Homo sapiens: one gene and its partner. The protein of the gene in region 1 purifies or fractionates together with the protein of each later gene. This does not show direct contact. Each region holds a gene or a part of one and is shown in the gene's direction. Other genes may lie near its edges.

Region 1 (6,935 bases):
GTCAGAGGCAGAAAGGATAGGAGTAGAGGGAGTAGGGGGTGGTAAGATCCCTGGGAATGAGGGATGGGAAAAACTGAGAGTGGGGAGGTAGATAGATGAGTGACACCGGGCCAGGCCTGGGGGCTCACGCCTGTAATCCCAGCACTTTGGAAGGCTAAGGCGGGTGAATCACAAGGTCAGGAGTTCGAGAACAACCTGGCCAACATAGTGAAACCCCATCTCTACTAAAAATATAAAAATTAACTGGATGTGGTGGCACGTGCCTGTACTTGGGAGGCTGAGGCGAGAGAATCACTTGAACCTGGGAGGCGGAGGTTGCAGTGAGCCGAGACCATGCCATTGCACTCCAGCCTGGGTGACAAAGTGAGACTGTGTCTCAAAAAAAAAAAAAGAGTGACACCTTCCCCATACTTTCCCTTGATTTACAGGCAGACTTTGAATGTTGCTATGTGGGCTTGGATTATCTCTTTAAACATTAGCCAGCCACAGTCATCTCCATCTCCCAAAGTTACCTTCTAACTCCCAGTTGCTGAGAACTGAGCCGTCTTTTGCCCCTCCTCAAAAATTATACACTTGGGATGACCGTGTCTACTAACATTCTTTCCTTTCTCTTGCAAGCCTCTTGCTAAGATCTCAACTAGCCTGGAAGATATTAGGGGCTGAAACAAAGCAGGAAAGGGTACAGAACAGAATGGCTCTCAAGATTCCAGCAGACATCAGAGGGCTAAAGGCAGACACCATGTTCATGGTCTGAGGAAAAGGGCAGACAGAGGCAAAAATCAATGCCTTTCCAAAGTAATGCATTCCACCCGTATTTTCACCTAGTTTTCCCAGACTTATTAAAATTTATCTGCATCTTTGAAGGTTTTGCCCCAAATTAATCAACTTAAACATCTATGCTATGCCAGGCAATGGGCAAGGTTTCTCTCTCTACACTTCCGCTCTGGTTCACTCACCTCATAGTGATTAGAGAGCCCACAGAGGCAGGACCCTTGCTCTCGACAACTGCTGAAATCCCAGCCATACTGGCACTTTGCGCCCAGGCGGCTCCCATTCTGCACACCCATGTCAGTCCTATTTTCGGAAGCACGTTGAATCATACAGGAGCCTAGAAATGAGATTGAGGATACACATTTCTTCATGGGAAGAAAACCCCATCCCAAAGCAGTAGGGCTATCTAGGTACCACCAGTACCAAAAGGGGAAATGAAAATGTTTGTGTGGCAGGGGTTGGGGGAGTGAGGAAATGACCAAATGTGATCATCGAAGAACACCATACAATTCATTAACAGATATGAGGGATGGGGAAACATGAAGGGAGGAGCGGGAGTCACTACAGACTCACCAGCCTTGATTTTGCCGTTGCTGGAGATGGCTGAGATAGACAATCCAGTGACAGTATGACTGAGGCCAAGAACAGGATGATGAGCCATGTGAGCCCTGGGGTGAGGATGGGAATTTATTCATACATGCACATCCCTTCCTACTGCCCAGGAGAGCTCTGAGCTCATACCTGTGCCTGCCTGAGCAGCGATCCAAGGCAGCTGCAGGTAGAGAATGATGCCCCAGATATTGAGCATACAGCAAATCTGGGGAGCGGGGTGGTAAGGGAGGGGTTGCAGTCTCCAGTGTGAGTCCCACCCCTTGCCCCCTTCTTCAGAGGTACCTCCCAAAAACTCCCCTGGAGCAAAGAGTTCTCGCCTGCCTAGATCCCCAGACTTAGGGAACCATGAGCGCCAATCCATTACCATGACTCCTATGACCCAGCTGAAGTGCACTGGGGCCTTGCCGATTTTGGCCCCAGAATTCTCCAGATCATCTTGGGAGTGTGGCTGGGTGTGGGTTTCCTCTCGAGGTGGACGTGGCACTATTTCTTGGCTGGGACAGCACATACATAACTGAAATGCCAAGACCCCTTGCTAGCCAGCGCGTCTGCAACCAGGAGGACAGCTAATGGACCTGGAGGGCAGTCCCAGAGCTACATGAAGGGTGGTGGTAGCCCACAGGCAGATGTTATCCTACCTTCAGGAGTTCACTGTGGGGCCTGGGTCTTACCAAGCTGTATGGAGCCATCCCAGGACTACGGAGTTGGCATAGAACTCGTAGCAGGGTCCAGTGTCCTCATCCTTGTAAGCAGTTGGTGAACAGAGGCTGGCTCGGGGTATGTCTCCACCAGATTGCAGTTCCTCCAACTCCTGGTTGGGGGCCAAGATGCTGGCCACATTGTCTTGCTCTGGGGAGGACATGAGAGGCATTCGAAATGTCTGAACTGGGAAACAGGGTGCAGAGCCTGGACACTATCTCCCCATTTGCTGGCCAGGATAACCATAAACTGCCTCTCAGTCGAACCATTTTGGGGAGTGCACCTGCTGGCTAGGCTCACCCAGGGAATGCTAGCTACTCAGAGTTGCCAGGGGTACCCAGGCCACAAATGGGGAAATGGAGACAACTCTGAAAGTAGGAGGGGGTGCTGTGCAGGTCAGCCCACTTCCCACCCTACCCCGCCCTCCACATGAGCCCTTTCATCTGAATCACAAGGAGCAATCGTTCCTCCTTCCCTTATTAAGTCTGCCTGTGGAGTCAACCTATCCAGCCTGGACCAGACATTTTATAGGCCAGGAAGTAGGAGTCCTTGGCCTGTCCTACCTCCCCCAGAGAAGGGAGAGGAAGTGTGTCACTGCACCTTTCCCTAAATCCTTTCTGCAAGATGACACTCAAAACTGCGGCACAAAGTGATTGCCTGGCTTTTAGGGGCTTTAGTCTAGCACTTGGCCTCAGGATGAGAAAGGAAGTGTTGTCCTGGAGGGAGAAGGAGTGGCTGTTACCGTCTGGCTCAAATGGAATACTTGCATGTCCATAGCCCATCTAGTCCAGGACTCTGGTCCTCACAGCATGCAGATCAAGCACACCTTCCACTGTCTGGTTCTTATCCCAGTGCCAAGATGAGAGTTAGAATTCCCCACACTTTTCCAAAGACACAGGGTTGGATTTCAGGCTCTTACCCTGGACCCCACCTCTGGACAGATAGTAATCCCTGTGTGGGGTGAGCCACCTAGGTCCGTAGCCCTGCCCCCTGGCCCTTCACTTTCCCCACTCTTCTGCCCTCCATGAATAAAGCTGGGCTATATTCGCTCCTGGGTCCCAGCTTTTTTGTTTTTTGAGACAGGGTTTTGCTCTGTCACCCAAGCTGGAGTGTGTGGTGCGACCTCAGCTCACTGCAACCTCTGCCTCCTGGGCTCAAGTGATCCTCCCACCTCAGCCTCCTAAGAAGCTGGGACTAAAGATGTGCCCCACCATGCCTGGCTCATTTTTGTATTTTTTTGTAGAGATGGGGTTTCACCATGTTGCCCAGTTTGGTCTCAAACTGCTGGCCTCAAGTGATCCATCCGCCTTGGCCTCCCACAGTGCTATGACTACAGGCATGAGACACCACGTCCAGCTAATTTTTGTAATTTTTGGTAGATATAAAAAATATGGAGTTTCATCATATTACCCAGGCTGGTCTCAAATTCCTGGGCTCCAGTGACTCACCCACCTTGGCCTCCCAAAGTGCTAGGATTACAGGCAAGAACCACCATGCCCGGCGGGGTCCCAGCTTTATCATGCACAGAAAAGTCAACAGCCAAAGCCTGGTCCAGACTCTTTGCCTGATCCTTCCAGCCCACTCTAGTGGCCCAGCCCTTCTGGCCTTGGGCTCATTCCACCAGATCCCCTCATTCTCCTTGGTTTCCTAATTTGCCTAGCTCAGCACACTCCTGTATGACCTACAGGTGGAAGGGTGGGGATGTCAGTCTGGGAGGGAGCCCAGGGGATTGGGTGTCAGAGTTAGGACACCAGGTGCCAAGTGCCTAGCCAGCCAGGACTGGCTATAATTAGCCCCATGGGGCCACTGGCTGACTGGGATGCCATGTGGGCAAGTTCCCTCTGCCACGCAGCCCCAAGCACAGCGGGCGCTTAAGTGAGAGGGCAAGCGGAACGCTGGTGTCTCCTGAGGGTGACTAAAAGGATGGGGGCAATAGGGGAGGGGTGTGGTCCCGGTTACCGGATCTTTACAGGGCTTCTTGCATGTTTCACTGCACCGCGTGCACCCTATAGCTGTCCTGTATATCCCAGATACTCCAGTGCTGGGATGTGGCTGAGGGTAGGAGGAGGGTGTTGGAGCAGGGGAGAGACTGACATTTCAACTGGCTGGAGACATGGTTGCTCTGGCCTCTTTGGGCCCAGCTCTGACGCCAGGCTGTCTTGCCTCTGCTCACCTGCAGCTATCCAGCAAACCTCGGCATGAGCGTCTCGGACACCCCACATTATCCCCCTGAGCTGGAGAGTGTCTCTCATCCCGTCCAGAGGGACTGCCTTGGACTCCTTGTGCACGCCCAGAGAACCCCTTCCTGGCCTCCCTCCCCCGACGAGGATCCCAGATTGCCTTCCTTTCCTCTGGAGGAGCCTGGTTCCAGGCCCCTGGTCCCAAGGAACCTTCCCTTTCCAGCCTTGTCCCTAGAGGAAGAAGAGGAAGAGGAAGAAGATGAAGATGCGGCAGAGCCCGAGTGGCTGCGCAGCGAGGAGCATCCGAGCCAGTTTTTCGCCGAGGCCCAGCGGCTGCGGGAGCAGAGACTGTTGCTGGACGAAGAGGTGTCAGTCGCGGGGCGGGTATACGGGGTGCATCGGGTGATCCTGGCCGCAATCAGCAGCCTCTTCCGAGACAGGCTGCTGGGCGGCGGAGGTCCGCGGCCCCCCTTCAGCCTCGAGGTGTCCCCAGGGGGCTGGGAGGCCGTGCTGACCTTTGCCTATGAGGGGGTGCTGGGCCCCGCCTCGCAGGGGGATGTGCTGGCCGCAGCAGAGGCGCTGGGAGCGCCCCGGGTGAAGGCTGCTGCCCAGCAGACATGCGAGAGGGCTGGAAATGCCAGGGAAGATGTAAAGAAGCCCAGCCAGGCAGAGGAGCTGAGGGAGAACCTGCGCGGAATCGAGCTCCTCTACCGAGAGGGCGTCGGGTGTGACTTGAAGCTGGAGGCAGGCGGCTGCCAGCTGTCGGGTGAGGGCCTGTGGGGCATTAAATTACTGCAGGTGCATATGCTAACGGAATGGTGTGTGCAAGCAGCAGGTGGTTTTATCCCCACCATGATGGTTTTGATCCCTGCTGCTGTCAGAATTTCCCTGGGGTGGCCTTTGGTGCCTCTCCTGCCCCACGGAGAGCCGGGCATGCGCAGTCGAGTTGTTTTCTAGGCGCTCTGACAGATTTAAACTGACCCTCTGTCTGGCTTTTCCTGTGTCCAGTAACAAGGAATCTCCAGCCAGCTGGCTAGAGCTAAGGGTACAATCCATGGCAGTAGAACAAGCAGAAAGTGGATTGACTCAAGCAGAAATTAACAAAAGGCCCTTCTTGGCATCCTCCATTCAGGACACAGGAAAGCCAGGGGAACATGGTGGAAAACTCAATGTGTGCTTTCACCTTGGTGTGCTTGACGCCATGGCTGACTTATGGGCCCTGCAGCTAATGAGCAAGGTCTGGTACTGTTTAAGGTTACCAGGCCGTGGCACTTTTTTTTTTTTTTTCTGAGACAGCATCTCACTCTGTTGCCCAGGCTGGAGTGCAGTGGCACAATCTTGGCTCACTGCAACCTGCACCTCCTGGGTTCAAGTGATTGTCCTGCCTCAGCCTCCCGAGTAGCTGGGATTACAGGCACCTGCCACCATGCCTGGCTAATTTTTTTGGTATTTTTTTAGTAGAGATGGGGTTTCACCAGGTTGGCCAGGCTTGTCTTGAACTCTTAACCTCAGGTGATCCACCTGTCTCATGCTGGGATTACAGGCATGAGTCACTGCACCCGGCCTGGCCATGGCACTTTGAAGTTAACTCTGCTCATCACCAGGAAAGCTAAGTAGGGTTGCATAAGTTGAGTATTATTCGGAGTCTACTAACATTTAGTGAGGCACTGGGTACCTGAAATTTTTACACATGACATCTCTTTTTAAATTTTACTGAAAGCTGGTGAGGTCAATATCATTATCTACAGGTGCACATAAGGAACATTAAATTTGGAGATGTTGACTTGGGACAACCCCAGGATACAAGCCTACATCACTAGTCCAGTCTCCTTCCACTAGGCCATGTGGACACATTGAAAGTTTAAAATTACAAGGGATTAGTTTAGAGATTATCTAGTTGGGCTGTTACACTTTGATGATGACGAAATCAGAATCCAAGACTTGTCCAAAGTCACATAGCTACTGCCCATTAGAGGAGTGACTGGGAACTGAAGTGCTTCTGGGACTCCTAGAAGGAAAACCACTCCAAAAGTCTATTTTCATTTATGATAGCACTAGATGGAGAGGGGATTTAAATTTTTCATAATCATAAAATTCTCACTAGGCTTTTGAATTTAAGCATACTCATATCACTGCTTTTATTTCCCTAGGAAATATTCCTACTTAATGGTTGCGAATCTGTCACTTAAAATCCTAGGGTATAGTAATGAGTAAGAGGTGAATACAAGTGGCTGTGAGCCCTTTCAGGGTTGGCTCTGAACTATAGGTTGATTGATGATATGGGAGCTGAGATGGCTTAGCTTGTTTTGAGGAATGCAGATTTTCTCAGACAATATATATTTGAAATCTGTCATTGATGTTTACTACTTGGGAAGCACCAGGCCACTACCTACTGCTTAAAAGACAGTGGAAAGTCATATGAACAACACCTGCCCTTTGGGAAAGGCACGCATGCCTCAGTTGGTCAAAGCAGCATGGAGTTCTTAAACAGCTTGGCCCTCTGTGACCTGCCTAAAAGGACTTCTAGGAGCATTACCCCCCACCTTTTTATTATGAAGCATTTTACAAAACCAAGAATATTAAGATGAACATTCAAACAACACCCATCACCCAGATTTAACAACTAATATTTTACTATATTTATTTCATCTGTTCATTTTATTTTTTACTGAA
Region 2 (7,027 bases), on another chromosome or scaffold:
CACCGAATTGCCTTTTCTCGTGTATAAAAAATCAGTTTTTCATATTTGTGTGGTTCTATTTCTGTGCTCTTTTTTCTGTCCTACTGATGCATTTGTCTATTTTAATGTTAATATCATACTGTCCTGACGACTGTAGCTTTATAATAAATCTTGAAATCAGTATTGTTAACTCTCATTTTTTTTTTAAGTTATTTTGGTCATTCTAAGTCTTTGGCATTTCCATATGACTTCCATATGAATTTTAGAATCAGCTTGTCAATTTCTACCAAAAAGACTGCTGCTGGGATTTTGATCAGAACTTTTTTTTTTAGAAAGGATCTTACTCTGTCACTCAGGCTGGAGTGCAGTGGTGTGATCATGGCTCACTGCAGACTTGACCTGCTGAGCTCAAGTGACTCTCCCACCTTAGCTTCCCAAGTAGCTGGAACCACAAGCATGCACTACCATGCCTGGTTAATTTTTTTTTATTTTCTGTAGAGACAACGTCTCATTATGTTGTTACCCAGGCTGGTCTCAAACTCCTGGGCTCAAGCGATCCTCCCGCCTTGGCCTCCCAAAGTGCGTGGATTACAGGTGTGAGCCATTACACCCTGCTTGATTGGAATTTTATTAAATCTGTAGACCAATTTGGAGATAGTTGATATTTTAATAATGAGCCTTCTAACTCATGAATATCATCTTATCTATTTGAGTCTTCTTGAATTTATCTCAGCAATATTTCATAGATCTTAGTATATGAGCCTCACATACTTTTTTCCATATTTATCTCTATATATTTTATGTATTTTGTTGCTATTGTATATGCTATTTTTAAAATTTCCATTTCTGATTGTTAGTTGCTAATATATAGAAATATATTTTATTTTTGTACATTGATCTTGAATTCTGCAACCTTGCTAAATCACAATTAGCTTTCTTATAGGCTTCATTGAATTATCTATATAAGTGATTACATTGTCTGCTATACAGTTATACTTTTTGCTCTCCAATATGGATATTTTAAAATTTTCTCCCTTATTTCATGGGCCAGAACCTCCAGTATAATGTTGACTAGAAATAATGAGAATGGACATCCTTTCCTCATCGCTGATCTTAGGGGGAAAGCATTCAATCTTTCTCCATTATGTATGATGTTAGCTATAGGTTTTTATCAGGTTGAGGAAGTTCTCCCTTCTGCACCTAGTTTGCTGACAGTTTTTAATCAAGAATAAATGCCAGGCTGGTCGTGGTGGCTCACACCTGTAATTCCAGCATTTTGGGAGGCTGACGTGCATGGGTCACCTGAGGTCAGGAGTTCAAGACCAGCTTGGCCAACATGGTGAAACTGTCTCTACTAAAAATAAAAAAATTAGCTGGGCATGGTGGCAGGCACCTGCAATCTCAGCTTCTCGTGAGGCTGAGGCAGGAGAATTGCTTGAACCTGGGAGGTGGAGGTTGTAGTGAGCCGAGATCGTGCCACTGGACTTTAGCCTGGGCGACAAGAGTAAAACTTCTTGTTGTTGTTGTTTTTTGTCAAAACACACACACACACACACACACACGAGAATAAATGCCAAATGCTTCTTGTGCATCTATTGAGATGATCATATGATTTTTTTTTTTTTCTTTTGAGATGAAGTCTCACTTCGTTGCCCAGGCTGGAGTGCCATGGCGCAATCCTGGCTCACTGCAACCTCTGCTTCCCAGGTTCAAGCGAATCTCCTACATCAGCCTCCTGAGTAGGTGGGATTACAGGCATGCACCACCATGCCAGGGTAATTTTGGTATGTTTCAGTAGAGATGGAGTTTCACCATGTTGGCCTGGCTGGTCTCGAACTCCTGACCTCAGGTGATCTGCTTGCCTTGGCCTCCCAAAGGTCTGGGATTACAAGCCTGAGCCACTGCACCCAGCCCTCGTTTAGTTTTCTCGTACAGTAAATTACATTGATTGATTCAAATGTCAAACCTTACATTCTTGGGATAAACCATACTTAGTTATAATGCATTTTACTTTTTAAAAAATTAATGGATTACATTTTTTTAAAATTATTTTTTAAATTGTGATAAATATACATAACATAAAATTTACAGTTTAACAATTTTTAAGTGTACAGTTCAGTGTTAGTAAGTGCATTCACAATGTTGTCTAACCATTATCACCACCCATCTCCAGAACTTTTTTTCCTTGCAAAACTGAAACTCTGAACCCATTAAACAATATCTCTCCATTCCCTACCCACCTCCCCAGCCCTGGGTAACCACCATTCTACTTTCTGTCTCTATGAGTTTACTCTATGTATCTCATATAATTGGAATCATACAGTTTTTGTCCTTTGTCTGGCTTATTTCACTTTGCATAGTGTCATCAAGGCTCATTCATGTTGTAGCATGTGCCAGAATTTCCTTCCTTTTTACCATTGAATAATATTCTATTGTATGTATATACCACATTTTATTTGTCTATTATTGGAAACGTGTTGCATTTACCTTTTGGCTATTGTGAATAATGGTACTATGTGTATTCTCCTTTTTATGTATTATTTGATTTAATTGGCTAAAATTTTGTTAAGAATTTTTACATATGTATTCATAAGGGGTATTGGTCTGTGTATATTTTTTCTTGTAATGCTTTTATCTTTTTTGGTGTTAGAACAATGCTGTACTCATAGAGTGAATTGGAAAGTTTTTCTTCTTGTTCAAATTTCTGAAAGTGTAAAGTTGTTGTGGAGAATTGGTATTATTTGTATTATTTCTTTCTTAAATGTTGGTAGACTGTCAATAAAGCCATCTGAGCCTGGAGTTTTCTTTGTGGGAAAGCTTTTAATGACACATTCAATTTTTTTAATAGACGTAGGGCTATAAAGGTTTTGTTTTTTTTGAGTGAGCTTTAGTGGTTTGTAGTCTTTCAAGAATTTGTCCACTTCATCTAAGTTAGGATCATCAACTACTATCTATGAGCTAAATCTGATTTGCTGCCTGTTTTGGTAAATAAAGTTTTGTTGGAATGTGGCCATACTCATTTGTCTATATATTGTCTGTGGCTATTTTTGTGTTACAGTGGCAGAGTTGAATAGTTGGAAAAGAAATGGTATGGCCTGAAAAATATTAACTGGCCTTTTGCAGAAAGTTTACTAACTTCTGATCAACAGTTTCAACTTTATTGTCATAAAGTCGATCATAATATTCATTTGTTATTCTTTTTAATATCTGTAGAATCTGTAGTGATATAAATTTTCTCATTTCTGACATTTGTCATTTGACTAATTTCCACTTTCATCCTAATTATTTCCTTTCTTTTGCTTATATTAGGTTTCATTTGTGCTTCCTTTTTTAGTTTTTTTTTTTTTTTTTTCTTTTTGAAACAGAGTCTCGATCTGTCACCTAGGCTGGAGTGCAGTGGCATGGTCACGGCTCACTGCAGCCTTGACTTCCCAGGCTCAGGCAGTCCTCCCACCTTAGCCTCCTAAGTAGCTGGGATTACAGGTGTGTGCCACCAAACCTGGCTAATTGTTGTGTTTTTTGTAGAGATGGGGTCTCACTGTGTTGCCCAGGCTGGTCTTGAATTTCCGGGCTCAAGTGATCTACCTGCCTTGGCCTCCCAAAGTGCTGGGATTATAGGAGCGAGCCACCAGACCCTGTCCTTTTCTAGTTTCTTAAGGTGGAAGCTGGGGTCATTAGTTTGAGAACTTTCTTCGTTCCTAATATAGGTGTTTCGTGATATAAATTTCTCTTTAAGTACTGCTTTAGGGATGCTAAAATTTTGATATGTTGTGTTTTCACAGAGAATGGGATCAGGGAAGTTTTCAAAGGTTCTAGTAATCTCTTTCTTAAGCTGGGTGGTAGGTACATGGATACATTTGTTTATTTGTGCATTTATTCTTTATATCATACATATAAATATTCTTTTGAGTATATTCTGTATTTAACAAGGAACTTTTAAAAAATGTGAATGGGAGGTAATGATGTAATCATCTGGTGGGTAAACAACTCTTTGAGCGGTTATGTTGTGAAGTGAAGCAGTGAAAGGGGGTAGTAATTTTAAAATGATGTGAGATAAAAGGGGAGATTGTTTTCGTATTGTTTTGTTTTAAAGCAAGTTTTCTGATTTAAATAAGAGTCATAAACTTTATGAAACCATACAAGTAGCAGATATAAAAGTGATATCCTGATGTGAAATTTGATGTGTTTAACCAAAACTCTTGCTTTAGAATAATACCACTTAAATTTTTTCTTAGATAGCAGTTTGAGTTCTGCTGCAGTACAAAAAACAAATACTTCATTGAGTTCCAAGAATTCCCTATCAAAAACTAGACAAATGATCTTGGTCTAAAGAATTTTCATGTCAGATATTGTAATCAGTTACCTGTCAATATAAATTATAAATACCTCTTAAAAGTAGTCATAAGGCCGGGTGTGGTGGCTCACACCTGTAATCCCAGCATTTTGGGAGACGGAGGTGGGTGGATCACTTGAAGTCAGGAGTTCAAGACCAGCCTGGCCAACGTGGTGAAACCCCATCTCTATTAAAAATACAAAAATTAGCTGGGTGTGGTGGTGCACGCCTGTAATTCCAGCTACTTAGAAGGCTGAGGTAGGAGGATCACTTGAACCTGGAAGGCAGAGGTTGGAGTGAGTCAAGATCATGCCACTACAGTACAGCCTGGGTGATGGAGTAAAACTCCATCTCAGAAAAAAAAAGTAGTTATAAAAGAGTAAGATGAAGGTAAAAATAAATTATTCTTGTTTACCAGAGGGTAAGGAGCAAAATAAGCTGTTTGCAGCCAGTTATCTGTACTATGCCTATTTATTTAATGACATATAACTTCAGGATGTTTCATAAGATAACTGAGTAATTACTAAGCTGTGCAATTTATTTGGTTTCTGTAGATAATAGAACATACTTAAATAGTGAATTGCTTTTCTGTCTCTCTCTCTCTTTTGGTCTTTATGGCATGTCTTGCCAATCATATTTTTTCTCTCCAATAGGTTGTATGGTTCCTGGAGCTGGTGCAATTGAAGTGGCAATGGCTGAAGCTCTTGTTACATATAAGAACAGTATAAAAGGAAGAGCTCGTCTTGGAGTCCAAGCTTTTGCTGATGCCTTACTCATTATTCCCAAGGTACAACTACCCTTTCGGCCAAATAACAACTGCTTAGACATAAAGGTGTTTAATTACAAATTGCCCATATTATCTGATAGTTAATGGAGTAGACAGGTATTTATGTGCATTTCCTTACACAGTTTTCTCTTAGATATTTTACAACTAAAGCAGGGAAACTTTTGCGATAACAGCCCAGGATCCTTGCACGATCTCATGAAATAGCCAACTTACCCCCTTGCTTCTTTCTCTGAGTTCCAAAAATTAAAGCAGCTCCAAAAATTTCCTTCAGAAATGACTCATGATTAACTAATCATAATGAAAAAGTTTAGAATTTAAAATTTAGTTAGATTTTGTGGTACATCTTTGTTTTGTTAGTGGTATCCAAATGTAATCAATTTAAATTGTGGAGAGGGAGGGCTTGAGGCTCTTTAGCACTCCTAGATACAACCTTACATTTGTCATCATCATTATAATTCCTAGAAAAAGAGAAAACAGAATTTTTCCATGTGGCAACCTAAGGACAGAAAGCGACCATTCCTTTGTCTTTGCCTTAATTGGTTTCAAACCACCTTAGAAATATAGTAAAACTACTTCAAAGATGCTATTACCATGAATTAAAACATTATTAACAATGTTAGCAAAATCTCTTTGCTAATTTTTATTAAAATTTTTCATAATTTGTGAAATCTTTGTGAATTAGATTTGCTATTTTTTCTTTCCCCAGAGCAGCAAAGTCAGTATGATCCTGCTGCTGACAGAAATTGGTAACCCCAGTACACATTACATTGGTGGTACCTTTTTCCTCATCAGCTGGTGATTTGGGGCCACTTGGAAGTGAGCCTGGTTTGGAGTGCAGGTATCTCCAACCCTGTTACCACAGGTCGTGACTCTCCTCATGAAGATGAGGGGCACAAAGGTGCTGCAAATATTCTGGTTTCCTTAGCAAGTGCCTATGAAGAACTGGAGGGCATGTGGCTAGCGGCACTAGAGGAAACAAGAATATCATTCTACTTCCTTCCATACTAAAAACAAAACAAAACAAAACAAACCTTTTGCAAGGAGGGAAATTAATGTAGTAGGGTAAAAATGGGGGAACTCTGATGTCCTCAGAATTTAGTGTGACGTGCATAGGGGAAATGTTTAAGTAAATATAAAAACTACTAGATAGATGAAATAATAATTTGATTTAGATTAAAAGTGGAATTCTTCAAAAGGAGATGATTGCCATGTTATGGATGTGTTTTTACAAGAGTAAAGAGTATTTTTATATTTGATATATGTGAAGGTATTATGCATATATATATAATATATATTATTATTTTTATTCCTAAAGGTTCTTGCTCAGAATGCTGGTTATGACCCACAGGAAACATTAGTAAAAGTTCAGGCTGAGCATGTCGAGTCAAAACAACTTGTGGGCGTAGATTTGAATACAGGTAAGAAAGTGAAGGAAAATTAGCTGCTTAATAAAGAGGTTATTCTTTAGTTACCCAGATCTTATGGTAAAGGAGTAGAGGTTTGGGTAACTTTAATATTTAAATTTTGGATGCCTTTAGTTTATTTTTGAGCTTCTTAAAAAATGTTCATTCATTTAAGAAATAGTTATTGAGTGCTTGTTTTCCTCTTGGGCTTCACACAGAACAAAACAGACAAAAATATCTGCCCCTGGGAGCTTATGTTGTAGTGGGAGAAGGTAGGCAGTAAATAATAACTTTAATAAATAAACTCCTTCAGCATTTTAGAAAAAGTAATGAATTATATGGAAAAAAGAGTGCTATAATAATGATCATGAATGCTAGTACAGGAGGGTGGAGAGAGAATGACAGCTTAAAGGGTTGGTCAGGGTAGGCATCATCTAGATGTCTGTTGAAAAAAAGTGGAAGGAAGTGAGGAAATTAGCCATGTAGGCAACTGGGGTTAAGTGTTCTAGGGAAAGAGAACAGCCA

What was found.
Region 2: the proteins of KLHL33 (region 1) and CCT6B purify together in Homo sapiens (affinity purification with mass spectrometry; 2 studies listed by BioGRID and IntAct, with this or other methods). This does not show direct contact.

What each region holds. Positions count from the first base shown.
Region 1 is NC_000014.9:20,433,157-20,440,091, reverse strand, and holds the start of KLHL33 (kelch-like protein 33), read left to right. Parts: upstream 1-3,925; 5' UTR 3,926-3,993; exon of another isoform or gene 3,994-4,140; intron 4,141-4,261; 5' UTR 4,262-4,280; coding exon 4,281-5,028; intron 5,029-6,935.
Region 2 is NC_000017.11:34,930,439-34,937,465, reverse strand, and holds part of CCT6B (T-complex protein 1 subunit zeta-2), read left to right. Parts: intron 1-4,965; coding exon 4,966-5,099; intron 5,100-6,414; coding exon 6,415-6,517; intron 6,518-7,027. UniProt on the Homo sapiens protein: Component of the chaperonin-containing T-complex (TRiC), a molecular chaperone complex that assists the folding of proteins upon ATP hydrolysis.